2 separate regions of the Homo sapiens genome follow, and region 2 is linked to region 1. The links come from fine-mapping of genetic effects on gene expression. Tissue or cell type: whole blood. Region 1 holds a variant in brackets; the other region holds the start of a gene. All regions are shown on one strand. Distances are between the middles of the regions.

Region 1 (8,181 bases):
TGCCCAGCTAATTTTTTGTATTTTTTTTAGTAGAGACGGGGTTTCACCGTGTTGACCAGGATGGTCTCGATCTCCTGACCTCGTGATCCACCTGCCTCAGCCTCCCAAAGTGCTGGGATTACAAGCGTGAGCCACTGCGCCCAGCCTACACTACATATCCTTATACATTGCACATACATTTTATTATATATGAACGATACCTAGCAATGAAATTACTAGGCGAAAGGGCATGTATATTTACAACTTTGATAGTTATTGCCAAATTGCCCTCACCTTCACTAACTATGGGTTAAATTTTTTTTTATTATACTTTAAGTTTTAGTGGGTTAAATTTTTTTTAACCTTTGCCAGTTGAATATATGTAAAAACAAGAGATTCTTTTACAAAATACTTATAAAGAAAAATGTTCCATCATTGAGCAATATGAAGTATATATTTCAACAGTCCAAAATACATTAGATAATTATACAATTCTTTTAGCCAAGATTGTGACTCAGGGTTGTAATATTTTCTCTCAGTATCCATTTATGAAAAACTACTGTTTATTGTTAATTGTTACTGTGTATCTAGTAATGAAAGCCCAGCCCTATTTATAGTAGAACGTGAGAGTTATCTTATGACTAAAATTGCTATGATTCATGGTACGAGACAGTCACTAAAATTTTCATCCCTGTGATTGAATAACCCAAAAGAATGCACCATGGTTGCAAAGTATAGTTGAAAAGAAGGAAGATTTTCAGAGGGGGCCATTCTCAGGGATGGGGCTGAAGCCTGACCACTGTCCACAGGACAGACGAGCACAGAATACACTTTTTAAGATTAGCACCACAATGCTTATGCAGTCTGGTAGTCAATCTTTTCTCCATCACTCAGTATCATATCATGAGCATTTTTCTATGTCATTAGTCAATAATAAAAATATTTTTTCCAGCATTATTCAGTCTTTCTCTATATTATAACCCAAGGCAGTTTTAGCTTGAGCTTTCCATTGCTGGGTAGCCCAGTGCCCTGGAATGAGAATAGACTTCAGAATTAGACTTCAGAATCTACATTCAAGTCATGCTTCTGCCAGTTAGTTATGTGATCTTAGGCAAGTTGCATAACCGGACTGAACCACATTTTCCTCTTCAGTAATCTGGGTAAAATAAAAGCCAGCTCTCCCCCACACTACGATACTGTGAGGATTAGAGGAAGTAACACAGGCAAAGTGCTTTTTTTTTTTTTTTTTTTTTTGAGACAGAGTCTTGATCTGTCACCCAGGCTGGAATGCAGTGGCATGATCTTTGCTCTCTATAGCCTCCGCCTCCTAGGTTCAAGCAATTCTCGCGCCTCAGCCTCCTGAGAAGCTGGGACTACAGGTGTCTGCCACCACACCCAGCTAATTTTTTGTATTTTTATAGAGATAGGATTTCACCATGTTGGCCAAGCTGGTCTCAGACTCCTGACCTCGGGTAATCTACCCATCTCGGCCTCCCAAGGTGCTGAGATTACAGGCTTGAACCACAGTGCCCGGCCGCAAAGTGCTTTTTGCATTGTTAAGTAGTAAGAAGTGACTCATTGCTTTAACTCAGACCCAAAGGGCCTCTCCCTGGGTCTCCTGACTCCCCCTTCTCCTTACTTGAGTGATTGAGGTCCTCTGAGAGGAACCCCCTCTTGAGCAGTGAAGACCAGACTTTTATTCTGTCACTTAAAGACTCTCACAGTCTGAACCAAACTTAGGCCCATCTGCTGATCCCGGTATCTTGCCACCATTTCAGTCCATTTCTTGTACTTTCACATAAAAGCCTAATTTTTAGGTATCTTGCTGATATTGCCATTTGCCCTTTATTTTCTCTTATGCCTGGCCCAGTGCCAACTTTCTTGTGAGGACTTCCCTGACATCGAAGACTACTATGGTTTACTCCTCTGGGCTCACACAGCACTTGGTCTCTATTGCTGACCTATACATGGTTATCACATAGTTCAAGAATTCCTTGACTCTTGGGGCATAGTTGTCACCTTTTAGGTAGTCTGCTAATCCTATGACTCCTCTCTATTTTTTCAAGACTTGCCTCTTACGCAGCAACCCTATTTGGCCACAGCTGATGGACAAGGGTGAACCCCTGGGCCAATAAGATTCTCTCTTCAGGGACTTTAGAATTGACAGCCAGGATGTTGGTCAGTATTGCTGGAAGTGAGAACACGGCCTTCAGGAGTTGACTCAGCCTTTGTGAAGTGCCCATTTTTGGCCCACCCAGGTACACAGAGGTAGAGAATGTTGTCTGCCAAGGAGATCCAAAAGCAATGAACAGACACCAGAAGCCACGTAACCCAGTGAGAGAAAATGACTGAAAGAAAGCACCTTGGTATCTGAAAGCTTTCTAATTCAGGGTTCCAGTGCTTGAGAGGCCCAGCTATAGTTTCAGCAGCTTTGGGCTCTGTGAACTATCCCTGTATAAATAAATGTCTCCCTTGTGTTTAAGAAAGATGGGTATCATAAAATCATGTGAATGTTCGGTAATAGAGACACATCCAAAGTTTCACGGGGCACCTGGAGGTGAGGGAAAGTAGTCAGGAATGGCTTTCTGTAGAAGGTGATGTTGGTTGGACCAGTAGGGAGGGCACTTCAGACAGCGAGAACAGCATAAGCAATGCTGGGAGCTGCAAGCAGTTCAGTGTTGCTGGCACATAAAGGCATGGACTGGCCAGGAGTGAGGCTGGCCGGAGAGGGTGGCCAGGGGCCCAGTCAGGAGCATCTTGGGTGCCATGGGAAGGAGCCTGGACTTTATCCTGCAGGTCAGGGGTTCTCAACCATGTTTGCACATTAGGATTTCCTGGGAAATTTTAAAAAGAAATATGGTTTCTTTCTCCCATCCAGTCCACTTAAATCAGAATCTCTGGGAATGGAAGCAGGAACTGATTTTTTTTTTTTTTAAGGGCCCAGGTGATTCTAATGAGCAGATAGGCTGGAGAACCTGACAGGATGCCTTGAAGGGGTTTAAGTGAGATATAGACATGGTTTTAGAAAGATCACCATAGATGCTAGACTTTGAGGATGAGACAGAAGGCGGGGTGACTGTGGGCAAACTGCTGCAGTGTGCAGGGAGACGCTGAAGAGAACCTGAAATGGGATGAGGGTGCCAGAATAGAGGGGAAGTTTGCAAACATTATTTAGGAGACAAAATAGTTTTCAGTTTAAGATTTAGTGACTGGAGAGAGATGGAAGGTAGTCAGGGTTGTCCTGAGGGTCCTAGCTTGGGTGACTAAAATTGCCCCAGGCGGCACTCACCAGGGTTAAGCTGTGGATGTGTGGAATATGAGGTGGTGCCTGGTAAAGATCAGGCAGCTGAATAAGGCACCTAAGGCTTCAGGGCTAGACCAGGTGGAAACAAATTTCAGTTTCACAGCTCATTTTGAGTGTTGTCATTTATTTTTTATCATTTATTGAGGAGAACCTCCAAAAAAAAGTCACTTTTGTAGGTTACAAGGTGTTATGGGTGTTGAAAGCAGAGTGAGCCCCACCCCAGACCACCTCCTGAGACAGGGTGTGATGTGTGTCTCCAAGTGCCTTGAAGTCAAGTGACTTCTCAGAGAGGTCTAAAATTAGCAGAGCAGCTGTGCCTAGTGGGTGGCAACACCTCAGCTCACTAGGCCGAGAATGGGGCCTTCCTGCTGTGGGCTCTGTTGTGTGAGTAGGTCAGGAGTTAAAAGCAAGAATCTGTTTCTTTGGAGAATTTCCCCAGGAGCTGCATGTAGTCCCAGTGTGCTCAAAGAGAAGAGAAAATGTCTTCTGTTGCCAGGTGGAAGGGAAAGAACAGGGAGGGGTATGTTGGAAAGAAGCTTCATAGAAGGGCTGATTTTCAAGAACGTTCTCTATGGAAATGACGCCCTTAATGACAGGTGAGGAGTGGAGGAGCTCACACTGGGGAGTCAGTTCTGACAACTGGAAACCTGCTGTGGGCTGTGTTTTGCACAGAATAATGCTGTGTAGATGCTTTTTTTTTTTTTTTTTTTTTTTTTTGAGACAGAGTCTTGCTCTGTCGCCAGGCTGGAGTACAATGGCGCGATCTCGACTCACTGCAAGCTCCGCTCCCGGGTTCACACCATTCTCCTGCCTCAGCCTCCCGAGTAGCTGGGACTACAGGTGCCCACCACACCCAGCTAATTTTTTTTTTTTTTTTTTGTATTTTTAGTAGAGATAGGGTTTCACCGTGTTAGCCAGGATGGTCTCAATCTCCTGACCTCATGATCTGCCCGCCTCAGCCTCCCAAAGTGCTGGGATTACAGGCGTGAGCCACTGCGCCCGGCCTGTAGATGCTTTCTTGTTGTGGGTTTTCACTCTCGGGGGTGGTTCAACCTGGCCTCCAGATCAGGCCTCTGCTGCCAACCCTGCCAACCCAAGGGATTTGTGGTGGGGGCCAGGCAGGTAGGTAGAAGTGGAGGGAGAGGAATCTCTTCACATTTTTTTTTAACATAGTATAGATGTATATAACATATTAAGCATACATTTTAATAGTTTTATATAAAAACTAACCCTCAAGACATATAAAAGCCTGGAGAGGAGATTGGAGGGGAAGGGTAGTAAATGACACAATGTTTCGTTG[T/A]GTTTCCATTAGGTTGGATTCTCTCTTCCTTGAGCTTTTGTCTACAGATTATTCTACACACACAGGAAGGATGACTGAGAAAATGAAAAATGGCAAGATACAGGACTCACTACCTAACTGAAAAGTTAAGCATGAACAAGCTGTAGGGGTATTATATATCCAGGAGTATTAATTTATATGGCATTTATCTGGGGATTTTTTTCCTACAAAATACCACCATAATCCCAGATGATACCAGAAAATATTTAATAGCAAGATTAAAAAATTAATCTTAACATGTCCTTTACGTTAATGTCCTCCATTCACACAAGGAATCCCCATTCTCCACCCAGAGATCCCAGCTATCTCCATAACCACGGGAAGTTGGTGAGATTGCCTGGAGCAGCCGCTGTGAAAGGCAGGGAGGAGTACAAAAGGAGGAAGCAGATGGGATGCTCCTAGGGCACCTACGGACTGAAAAGGAAGACTTCTGGGCTGGGTCTCAGGGATCATGTTGAGTTCAAGGAAAGAAACTCCCCAAGAAGCTGTGTCCGTTTGGCCTGTATGCGAGCAGATGTGCATTATCTTGGCCAAGCTGCTTCTCTGAGCTCCGAAAGACTTGCTTTGCTTGAAATAGTCTCTTTTGGCCGGGCACGGTGGCTCACGCCTATAATCCCAGCACTTTAGGAGGCCAAGGCGGGTGGATCACAAGGTTAAGAGATCGAGACCATCCTGGCCAACATGGTGAAACCCCGTCTCTACTAAAAATACTAAAAAATTAGCTGGGCATAGTGGCGCGCGCCTGTAGCCCCAGCTACTTGGGAGGCTGAGGCAGGAGAATCACTTGAACCCGGGAGGCAGAGGTTGCAGTGAGCTGAGATCGCGCCACTGCACTCCAGCCTGGTGACAGAGTGAGACTCCGTCTGGAAAAAAAAAAAAAAAAAGAAAGAGTCTCTTTTGTAATCTTGGTTGTGTTTTCTAGTGAGTTCTTGGATGCATTTAGGAGGTGCTACCATAACTAGGAGACCAAGAGGGCAGCAATTCACTCATGAGGGAGGGCAGAGAGAGTCCCAGGGAGGAGGGAAAACTGTGGGTGGAGCTGAGTGCTAGAGGCAAGAACTCAAAGAGAAAGCGGGGACAGATGAGATTGATGGTGCCATACAACCCTCCTTTCAAAGCTGAGTATTTAACATTGTTGAAAAATCAGCATTCATCCCTTTTATTTTATAACTGGTAAAGACCTTTATAATCCTTCAGTGGCCGAGAGGACCTACTGGGCCAGTCTGCTCTGTGACTCTCCCTCATATCTAATGAAATGGGCAAGGCACTCCCAGAGGCAGGCCCTGGGCCCTTGGGTCAGGGATCTACCCCTGCTTTTGAACTTCTTTTGGCCTCCTTCAGTGCTCTGCCCCTTATAGCCGGGCTTCAGGGTATAGTCCATGTCCATGTGGTTGCTTATACCTCAAAGCTACTTCTGGATAGCCTGAGCCAATCTCGTGCTACTCAAGAAGTAAAGGAGAAGAATTTCCAACTATATACCTGGCTTTGTGAATAGTCTATGGGAGCTACTTATTGGGAGCCTCCACAGAAAAACCTGTTTCCCACTGTTACATATGCTCACTTTTCATCCATTCAGATGCAGAGGCTAAAATGTAAAACCTAATATAAATTCAAAAAGGAGGTACATAAGCATTTCTGTATCTATCACTTGCAATGCTCTTTTTACCTGGACAAATCAAGAGCGAACCTGTTCTTATTTGAGGTCACAGGAACGGCACGTCTTTTGTGACATTTCAGGCTCAGCTTACGGAGAGTTTCTTAGTGGTGAACCAGGATGTTTTGGTGATAACTTGCAAAAGGGATGAGTGAAGTAACTACAATGAAGACTGATGATCTAGATTCAGGATTCCATTCCCTTCTTGTTCCTATATGGTTGAACATTGGGAGACACTCCCAGGATCTCCATTTGTTTCTCCATAACTTTAAAAGCAACCAAAATTTTTAACTAGCTCTATGCACCATGCTAAATGCTTTATATAGATATATGTGTGGAATTTAGTCCTCAAAACAATTTTGTGAGATAGGTGTGGGTAACCCCATTTTACAGATGAGGACTCTTTGAGTCCCTGAGAGGTTAAGTAACTTGCCCGAAGTCTGAGTGCTGGTGAGTGGTGGATCTAAGATTCTAAACCAGCTCATCTGATGCCAGGTCCACATACTTTATGCATTTTACCTTCTGGGAAAGAACTAATGCCTCTTTTCGTAAGGTTTGAGAGAACAAATAAGAAAGTACATATAAAAAGCTTTGAGAGTTGGGAATCAAGGTATCTGTAAGCCTTAGATTCTTAAGTATGGTGAAAAGAAAATTGAAAGGGATCAGTTAAAATCTCACAAGATCAAAATGTATTGCTCAGGGATTCTCAAAATTAGGAATTGTAAGTAGAAACATGGATCTCAGCCTTTTTATCTATAGGTAAGAGGCTGAAAAGGCTCAGTTTTGCTGCAGATTCCAAATTGATGAATATGTGTGATGGCTTTCCAAGTGAGAAGAGCTCTCTGAGTCTTGAAAAAATGGTTTATGACCACAACTTATAGGAGGACTATTAGTGAAGGAAATATGGACTTCCAACTGTTTAAAACAGATTTTAAGAAAGAAACCATGACTGTTTTACAAAAGTCTTGTGTAATGGACAGAGATAGCCATGTTAGTTTCCATTTTCTGCAGAAAGGGGGCATCTCATTTAATTCAAATCAACCCAACAGTCCTCGGGGTTTGGAGACCTCTGTCATTCTCCAGATTTAGCCAGGCCAAAGTATAACATATACATGCCTTAGATGTCTTACAAAAGTCACGTCACTCCAGAGAAAATGTGAATACCTCACAGAAGCTCTGGGGACAGTCCACTGACTTCAATTATTTTGGAAAGAAAGTGAAAGCTCAGGAGTGGCCTTTGAGTTGTGACACCCCCCCTTGCATTGCAGGGACTGGCCTCAAATCAATCTAGGCTCTCTGGATAGGCTGGCTTCAGAGCATTTGGTTCTGAAGTGATCTAAACAAAGACATATTTTTTATGGCTATTCTAAAAAGATAGCTGTTGCTGGGCATGGTGGCTCATGCCTGTAATCCCAGCATTTTGGGAGGCTGAGGCGGGCAGATCACCTGAGGTCAGGAGTTCAAGACCAGCCTGGCCAACATGGTGAAACCCAGTCTCTACTAAAAATACAAAAATTAACCGGGTGTGGTGGTGGGTGCCTGTAATCCCAGCTACGCAGGAGGCTGAGGCAAGAGAATTGCTTGGACCCGGAAGGCAGAGGTTGCAGTGAGCTGAGATCGTGCCCCTGCACTTGAGCCTGGGCGACAAAGCAAGACTCCGTCTCAAAATAAATAGGTAGATAAACAGATAGCTAGCTAGCTATCTGGTCTACCCTGTCCTCTGATGTTAGATGCCACAGAAATAGAGAAAATGCAATGTCTTCTTTTCACAGTCTAACTCTGTTGGATAACATGATTTTCCTATTTGACTGTGTTTTTCATGTTGTTAACTCCATATGTAGAATATGTCAGAGCCATGAAGGTGTTTGGCTGAGAATCTTGGAGGCTGGGGTTGTAAACTGAATG
Region 2 (8,181 bases), 63 kb after region 1:
GGCCCTTGAAAGTAATGTCCCAAGGCTGGGATTCCTCTTACCTGGGTCTAAAGGCAACGCCCACTAGGTCTGTTCATTCTTCTCATTGAAAAAGCAGCTCCTGCCCCCAATCTGTGTGTTGAAGAAGGGAGTGCAGTCAAATGTAAGAGGGTAGGTTATTTAAAACACTATGGTATATTCTCTACATTAGAAAAACCTCAGATGGGCTGGGTGTGGTGGCTCACGCCTATAATCCCAGCACTTTGGGAGGCCGAGGTGGGTGGATCATTTGAGGTCAGGAATTCAAGACCAGCCTGGCCAATAGGGTGAGACCTGGTCTCTACTAAAAATACAAAAATTAGCTGGGCATGGTGGCACGCGCCTGTAGTCCCAGCTACTCAGGAGGCTGAGGTAGGAGAATTGCTTGATCCAGGGAAGCGGAGGTTGTAGTGAGCTGAGATCATACCATTAGACTCCAGCCTGGGCATCGCAGCGAGACTCCATTGCCAAAAAAAAAAAAAAAAAAAGAAAAATCTCAGATGACATCAGCGAACAGAGAGAGCTGAGATTCTAGTGTTGCTTGTGAGCTTCCCCAGAGGAGGTCGAACCGAAACCAGGTCTCAAATGCAGTAGGGATATCCATCTGCTGTTTTTTAAAAATATTTTTTAAAGTATATTTTTAAAATACAGATAGGGTCTCACTTTGTTCCTCAGGCTGCTGTCAAACTCCTGGCCTCAAGCAATCCTCCGGCCTCCTCCTCCCAAACTGCTGCCATTACAGGGATGAGCCACTGCGCCCAGCCCATTGTAGTTTTTATTAGAATTTATGATAAACTTTTCATTTCATGGCATTGTCAATTATATCAGGTATTTTCTTGGTCATTTTTTATTTTTTTTGTCTGGAAAGCTGCTCTGGGGAGACCTCAGTTTTCTGCCCACCTCCTCTGTGTGTGGCCCTCAAACTAAAGACAAGCCCCTTAAGGATCACCACTCCCATGCCTTGCCCCTACCACGGGTACCTCAACCGCTTCTAAAATTTTTAGATCATCTCTGCTATATTCAACGGCCATGGAAGTTTCAAAAGTTTCCAAAGCAAAATGTTTTGTCTGAAACAAGCTGCTTTGGATTTTGTCTACATGATACAGGCACCTTCCTCTGGGCCCCATAATTGTCTCCTCTGTCACTTGCTTGGTGTTATGACATGTAACAAATCAGAGTGGGAAGGTCTTAGTTTTCTCTTTGTCAGCATTCTGGGATGCCCTGGTGGTAACAGGAAATGCACCCACAGCTCCATGCAGCTCTCTTGTAGGTGCTTTTCTTACCTGTGGGCCAGATCCTGTCCTATGTAATGTTGATGTTTGTAGAGTTTATTTTTTGGTTTAGGGCATGAAATGATAATCGGCTTAAGCAGCACCAGAATTGAAGCAGAGAAGGTGAGGACACAGATTTCTTGGCCCTTTGACGAACAAACTGAAGATCACTGTTCAGTCTTCCCAACTGCAGAAGCTGTGATGTGGCGGAAAGAGCTGGAACCGTGCAGCTGGGCTTGCTCCCCCATGTCCCTCGTCCATCCTTCGTGGCCCACTCACTTGCCAAGAGCTGTTGATGTTGAAGCACCCAGGATATCCAGGAGGCAGCACCACATTCAGCAGGGCATTGTGACTTGGGGCCAAGTCTTTCAGCCTCCCTCAATCTCACTTTCTTTACTTGCAAATAGCAATACCACAGACCCCTCACAGGGATCATGGGAAGGTTAAAGAAGTGGAACTGGTTCAGCTGGAGCTTAGTAAGTAGTCAAAATCAACCTTCAAGAGTCCGTGTCCTGGAGCTCAGCAGCTGTCCTGGGCCTGGAAGACGGGGTGTGCTTCTGCTCTGTCTCCTTCTGTGGTTCTGGGGTGGGGGATCTGCATAGCCTGTGGGGTCCCCAGAGAGCCTGGGGCTGCTGCAGAGCAAGTTCTCTGTTGTTGGCAAATAAAGCCATAGCAGAGATGACTCCAGCAAGTTGAGCACCCTCTGAACAAAGAAGGAAATGTATTATCTCTTTCCTGAGGCCTATTCATATTGGAAAAAACACTACCAGATTTAACTTCAAAATATAATTTTTCCAGCACAGCTGGAATGCACCCCCCGGCCATCCAGAGGCTTCTAAATGCATTGGGAGCTCAGTTACGACGCTCACCAAGTTGTCTCATCTCGCCTGGAACCCACTGGCCCTCACAGAGTTGAGAGAATATTCATTTTCTTGAACTCTTATGAACGACAGTTTCTCGCTTGCCATGATTCTGTGGAACTGGGCATCCGGCATCTCAGAGATGGGAAGTCGGAGAAATTCTGAGCATAGGCTGTATTTGCTGAGAAGATAAAGAGACTACTTTCCATTTCTCACTTCTCTCTCAAAGCGCAAAAACAACGGGCCTGTCTGGCCTAGTCACTGCTTTCTGTCTCTGAAGTGTTCCAGGCGCCAGAACCAGCCTTCCTCCTTATTAACGTTCCATGATGATTCCTTCCAGGTGCTGGGGATCCAGCCCGTGGGGTTATTAGAGGGCAGACACCAACAGGGAAGGTGTTGTTGACTCACCCTCACAAATATCATTCCTTACATTGTCAGGGCAATTACAAAACACGACTTTAAAAATACTATAATAAAATATCCAACTGAAGACTTTCAGTATAATTAATCCGCCAACCTTATATTTTGAGAAGGTTGAGAGCCGTGAGGGAAAATAAACCCTAGAGAAATACATTGTTTTTAAGTTCTTTCAATAAAGACATGTAGGCATTTTCTAATGTTTTTCCCAAAAAGAAAGAACATCTACTCCTCTAATTCCACAAGAGATATAAAGAATTAAAGAAATTGTGATTAACAGCCCTGTGTCTGGAGCTCATGAAGCTCAGAGGATTGGGAATGGAAGTGGCAGGTTTAGGCTTGAATCAGAACTTCTGGATTTAGGAAAACAAAACAGGCCAGGCGCGGTGGCTCACACCTGTAATCCCAGCACTCTGGGAGGCCAAGGCGGGCAGATCAGGAGCTTGAGACCAGCCTGCCCAACGTGAGAAACCCTGTCTCTACTAAGAATAAAAAATTTAGCCAGGCATGGTGGTGGCACGCCTGTTAATCCCCGCTACTTGGGAGATTGAGGCAGGAGAATCGCTTGAACCTGGGAAGCAGAGGTTGCAGTGAGTCGAGATGGCGCCACTGCACTCCAGCCTGGGCCACAGAGCGAGACTCCGTCTCAAACAAACAAACGACAACAACAAAATGCAAACTCTGGCCAGGCGCGGTGGCTCATGCCTGTAATCCCAGCACGTTGGGAGGCCAAGGTGGGCGTATCACTTGAGGTCAGGAGTTCAAGACCAGCCTGGCGAACATGGTGAAACCCCATCTCTACTAAAAATACAAAAATTAGCCAGGTGTGGTGTCATGCACCTGTAGTCCCAGCTACTCAGAAGGCTGAGGCAGGATAATCGCTTGAACCTGGAAGACAGGTTGCGGTGAGCACAGATCGCGCCACTGCACCCCAACCTGAGCGACAGAACAAGACTTCATAAAAAAAAAAAAAACCCCACGCAGATTGCAGATTCCTGGGCCCCATCTTCGCCTTTCTGAATTGCAGCCTTTCACCCTTTAAGAATGAGAGGGTGAAATCTGCACGTCATACAAATAGCCCAGGGGCTATTAATCTGATGTTGCTCCCCAGCTCCCTCCAACACCGTCAGAGGGTGCACGGATTAGGCCTCTGCTGCGTGCAGAGAAGCATCCTAGGTGCTGCGTGGCTGTGCCAAAGCAGCAGAAACCGGTGGTGTGCCTTAAGATGCATGCTCCAAAGCTGTCCACAAGGCCTCTGGTACAGGCTTCCAGGTCTACGTCTCGGCTTCCCCGACAGTGTCCATGCGACACTGTCACCAGTTTCTCCTCTCACAAGCAGAAAATCAAATTCGGATTGGGCAAATGATTCCCTGCCCGGGTGTGGAATAAGGGTCAAGTCCTAAGTATGGAGAGAGAGCGCCGGCTCCCGCCAGGATATGCGAAGCTCTGGAGGGGAGGCCAAGCCACCAGGCACCCGGCGGGAGAAGAGGAGGCTGGAGAGCGCCGCCCAGTGCCTGCAGGCCGGGCGCTCCACGCCTCCCCTCCCTCCTGCACACCCCATTCCCCTCCGGTTGCCCCGCCTGGGAAGCCCCCTCCCCACACCTCCCGGCCCAGCATCTGCACGAGAGCCGCGAGCCCTGGCCCAGAGCTCTGGGTGGGCCTCTCACCCCAGACGGCGGCCGCAGCCCGTCCCTGATCACCGGCCGCCTGAGCCCTCCGTTCGCTCGGCGCGAGCGCCGCCACCCGTCCTTACCCCCATCCAGTCCGAGGCCAGCCCCGTAGGCTCCGAGCCTGCTCCGTGAAAAGCCTTTTCCCCAGGAGGAGAGTTACTGTAAAGCAAGAGGAAGCCGAGAAGAGGCGGTGGCTGCAGCGCGCGGGGCCCGGCGGGGGCGCGGGGGCGTCGGGGTACTGACTGGGCAGCGCGGTTTCCCCTCATCCCGGGACACGGTGCGGCGCTAGCGCCACCCAGCGGGCGCGGTGGGAATTGCGCTCCCTTCCTGCGCTGGGGCTCTGGACACACAGGCGACCAAGAATGACGCCTGCAGCCGGATAAACGCTCGGGGCAAGGCCGCTATCATCCCTCTGCCGGGAGTGAGTCAAGTCTCAGCAAAAGAAGAAGCCACTTTGGCCAAAATTCCAAGAGTGCTGATGAAGACGGTGACATCTGACATTTCAATGGCACTTTCCATTTCCCCCGGGGTGCGCATTCCGGGCCAGTGGAGCGCTGCGTCGCCTGTGCAGGACCTGGAGGTCTGCAGGACTGTGACCAGTCGGAGTCTCGGAGTCGTGGGTTAAACATTAGTCGGGAGCACTCGTTCATTCCCTGAGCTCCCCTTGCCCTTCACCCTTCGGTCCCGGAAGCCGGAAGGGAGACTGCCCCGCCCCTTGCCTGCCGCCCAGTGGCTCTCCCGGGGCCCTCTTGGCCCCTCTCTCCCAGCCCTCCATACAGTGAAGGGTTGTTTCCGCTGGTGACTTCCACCTGTGGGAGCAGAGAAAGGAAGCGGGGCAGAGGAGAAGGGGAAGGTGTCAGGCGATTCCCCTCCTTGCGCTGCAAGCCGGGTGGGAATAGAACACCTGCAGCCCTCCCCGGCGCCCTGCGAATGAGGTGGGAGTGGGAACGCCATCAGGGCAGAGCCCCTCCAGCTGGCTGGGGTCTGCACCTCCTCGCCAGCCCGGCCACCTCAAAACGGTGCTTGCCTCCCTGCGGGGGTGTAGAAGCCTCTTGGAGCAGCACTTGTAGAAAATCAAGTCCCTGGAAAGAAGCAAAATTAATCCGTTTGTTTCTCTATTTATTTTTGCTTCCCCACACCAGGTATTCACTTCATCCAAGGCTGCCCAATGTCACCTTCCACCCAGAGGAATCTCCCCTCTCCACCCCAGGCCAACAGCCTCTGCCTTCAGCTGTGGCCTCCACTCTGGCATTACTCTGGGCAGAGGGCTCAGGAGGGCTCAAGGAGGACCAGTGACATTCAGAGTGGCCAGAGTAAAGGGAGGGAGGGGGAGTGGTGGGAGAGGCGTGCAGAAGGCACAGGTGAGGTGGCGGAGGGGGGCAGGTGGTGGGGGGAGCGGGCTGGGGTGGGATGGGCCTGTCAGCATAGCAAGGGCTGTGATGGGCTTGAGTCTGACAGGGGGCAATGACCTGACCTACGGTTTTGTAAGATCACTCTGGCTGCCACCTGGAGAGCTGGTGTGGGGATGATGGCCATGGTAGACACAAGGGGAGCAGTTAGGAGACCACCACAAGTGACCATGCGGCCCAGGCGAGTAGGGTAGCAACAGAGATGGGGAGAGGAGGTCAGATTTGTGATCTGTATCTGAAGGTGGAATGGACAGGAATTGCTGATGAGCTTGGGTGTGGTGCATGAGGGAAAGAGAGAAATAAGCATCATTCTTAGGATTTGTCCTGAGCAACTGGAAGAAAAAGAATGACAGTGGCTAATACGGTTAGCCAGGCGCTCCTCTAAACCCTTCACATAGTTTAACCTGTCTAGATTTCATAACACTCCTATGAATTAGGAATTAGTTCTTCCCACATTTTACAGAAGAGGCAATCGAGGCCCAGAGAGTTGAATCAGTTTGCATAAAGTCCCACCATTAGCAAATGGAAAAGCTGGAATTTGGACCCAGCACTTCACCACTGCACACTTCCCCGGCTTTACAGAAAGAGAAATGCCGTGAACTGAGCTAGATGAGCCCGGGGGAGGAATGGGGTTTTTCCGTGGGGGTGTGAATCAAGAGTTCTAGTTGGAATGAATTCAGGCTGAGGTGCCTTTTAAACATCCAAGTAGAGATATTTAGCTCAGCAGATGGATGTATGACTCAGGCCCTGGGTGGCAAGGAGGAGCATCTGGGGCTGGCGTGTTAAGCATGGAGAGGAGACAGGAGAAGAGGGCAGAAGGCTGGGAAGTGGGATTAAATGCTGCATGTGAACGGATGAGGACAGAAATGGATACTTTAGAGCATCCTGTCAAGCCTTGGGGTGTCGGGTGATGAGTGTGTTTAGGAAATATTATTCTAGAGCAGTGCTTGTTTTTGTTTGAGGATTCAATAAAGGCTGTCACCTTGTTCCAGAAAAAGTACATGAACACACACGCAACATTTTGCATACAATTTCAGGGTGTCCGTGGGTCCCCAGAGGACATGCATGGGCCATTCTATTTCTATCAAACCTTACTTCATCCACCAGCCACAATCAAATTTCACTGTATCTCTCAAGTCCTGACCAGACCTCTGATGCAGTCACCCCACCCTCTCTGTCTGCATGAGATAGGAGCTGCACTCCTCTGAATCGAGACGGTTTTGAATTGAGACGGTTTTGAATGTCTATGTAGAATGCAGCTCGCCCTGCAGGTATTGCCTGTGTACATGTCTCATTTGGAAATGGTTCCCCTGAGGAATGAGAGGATGAACCCACAGAGTCTTTTGCTCTCTTATTCACCTGGGAGGTGATGTTATTCATCTATTTCCTAGATTTATTTGTTTTTTTGGTGTTTTTTGTTTTTGTTTTCGTTTTGAGATGGACTCTTTCTCTGTCGCCCAGGCTGGAATGCAATGGCGTGATCTCAACTCACTGCAACCTCTGCCTCCCGGGTTCAAGCGATTCTCCTGCCTCAGCCTTCTGAGTAGCTGGGATTACAGGTGTGCACCACCACACCTGGCTAATTTTTGTATTTTTAGTGGAGACCGGGTTTCACCATGTTGGCCAGCCTGGTCTCGAACTCCTGACCTCAAGTGATCCACCCTCCTCAGCCCCCTATAGTGCTGGGATTACAGGCATGAGCCACCATGCCTGGCCTTATTTCCTAGGTTTAAAGACAAAACTAGCTCGTTCTATTGTTTCCATCGACACAATTGCTTCCCCAATATATAATGGGCATTTGTTGCTATTGTTCTGTTTGTTTTGGCGGTCCAGCTTCCAGCATCCATTCTATTTGGGAGGATTCCCCGGTGACTCTTGGCAGGAATCCATCAGCCCCTCTGGAAATGGAAGGAATGGAAGGAACCAGGTGTCCCTCTTGTCCCCCACCCCTGCAGAGGTCACAGCCTTCCTATCCTGCCCAGCCCAGTGGGGCTTTGAAGGCTAGGGTGCAGGAACAGAAGAGAACTTATTTTTGGCCATGGCAGCTAGGCCAGGAGACCATCTGTGAGAGTAGCATCCTGTGTCCTGTGGCAGCAGTCCCGGCCACGGTATCCTCACCACAGCCTGGCCACAGCTTGGCCTCGCCTGCATCTCCTGCTGCCAGCCGCCTTGATACCTGCCCATTTTCCCCATGCGGTTCTCCAGCCTTCCGACTGATAAGTTCTGCACATATTTCCCCATGTCCATTGCCTGCACGAGTCAGCCAGGTCAGCTCTGTCGCTTCCACCAAGACCTCTCACTGCAGTGGCTGTGCTGAGCTTGCAGCTGACGTCTGCTCTACAGTGTCAGCACTTGGGATTCTTCTTCTGTTGGGGGTCCCTGAAGGTGGGATTCCTGGCCTGTCGAAGCATTGCTGTGTGACACATGCCAGATCCTTGCGGTTGCCTGTGAAGCTCGGAGCCCTCCATATCGAGGGAGGAAGGCTTTCCTTCCAGCAAAGTCTTGTGGCTTTCAGCGAGAGCGACTATGCAGCAGC

What was found. PIP is the estimated chance that this variant, and not a neighbour inherited with it, causes the effect.
Region 2: it holds the start of C1orf220, and the variant in region 1 is fine-mapped to the expression of C1orf220 in whole blood (TOPMed, PIP 0.96).

The regions. Positions count from the first base shown.
Region 1 is chr1:178,601,585-178,609,765 of GRCh38, reverse strand. No RefSeq gene overlaps it. Among named protein-coding and RNA genes, the nearest start is that of C1orf220, 63 kb to the right of the region's middle. RefSeq lists enhancers at 1,362-1,441, 3,546-3,685, 3,696-3,845. The variant T/A (reference allele first, on the strand shown) is at 4,584.
Region 2 is chr1:178,539,024-178,547,204 of GRCh38, reverse strand. It overlaps C1orf220 (chromosome 1 putative open reading frame 220), which reads right to left and starts at 4,409. Exons shown (of 3, transcript NR_033186.1): 1 at 4,320-4,409; 2 at 1,302-1,992; 3 at 1-111. LOC124904460 (a long non-coding RNA gene) reads left to right here and starts at 4,560. Exons shown (of 2, transcript XR_007066748.1): 1 at 4,560-5,171; 2 at 5,379-6,642. RefSeq lists silencers at 4,175-4,244, 4,275-4,604 and an enhancer at 4,655-4,714.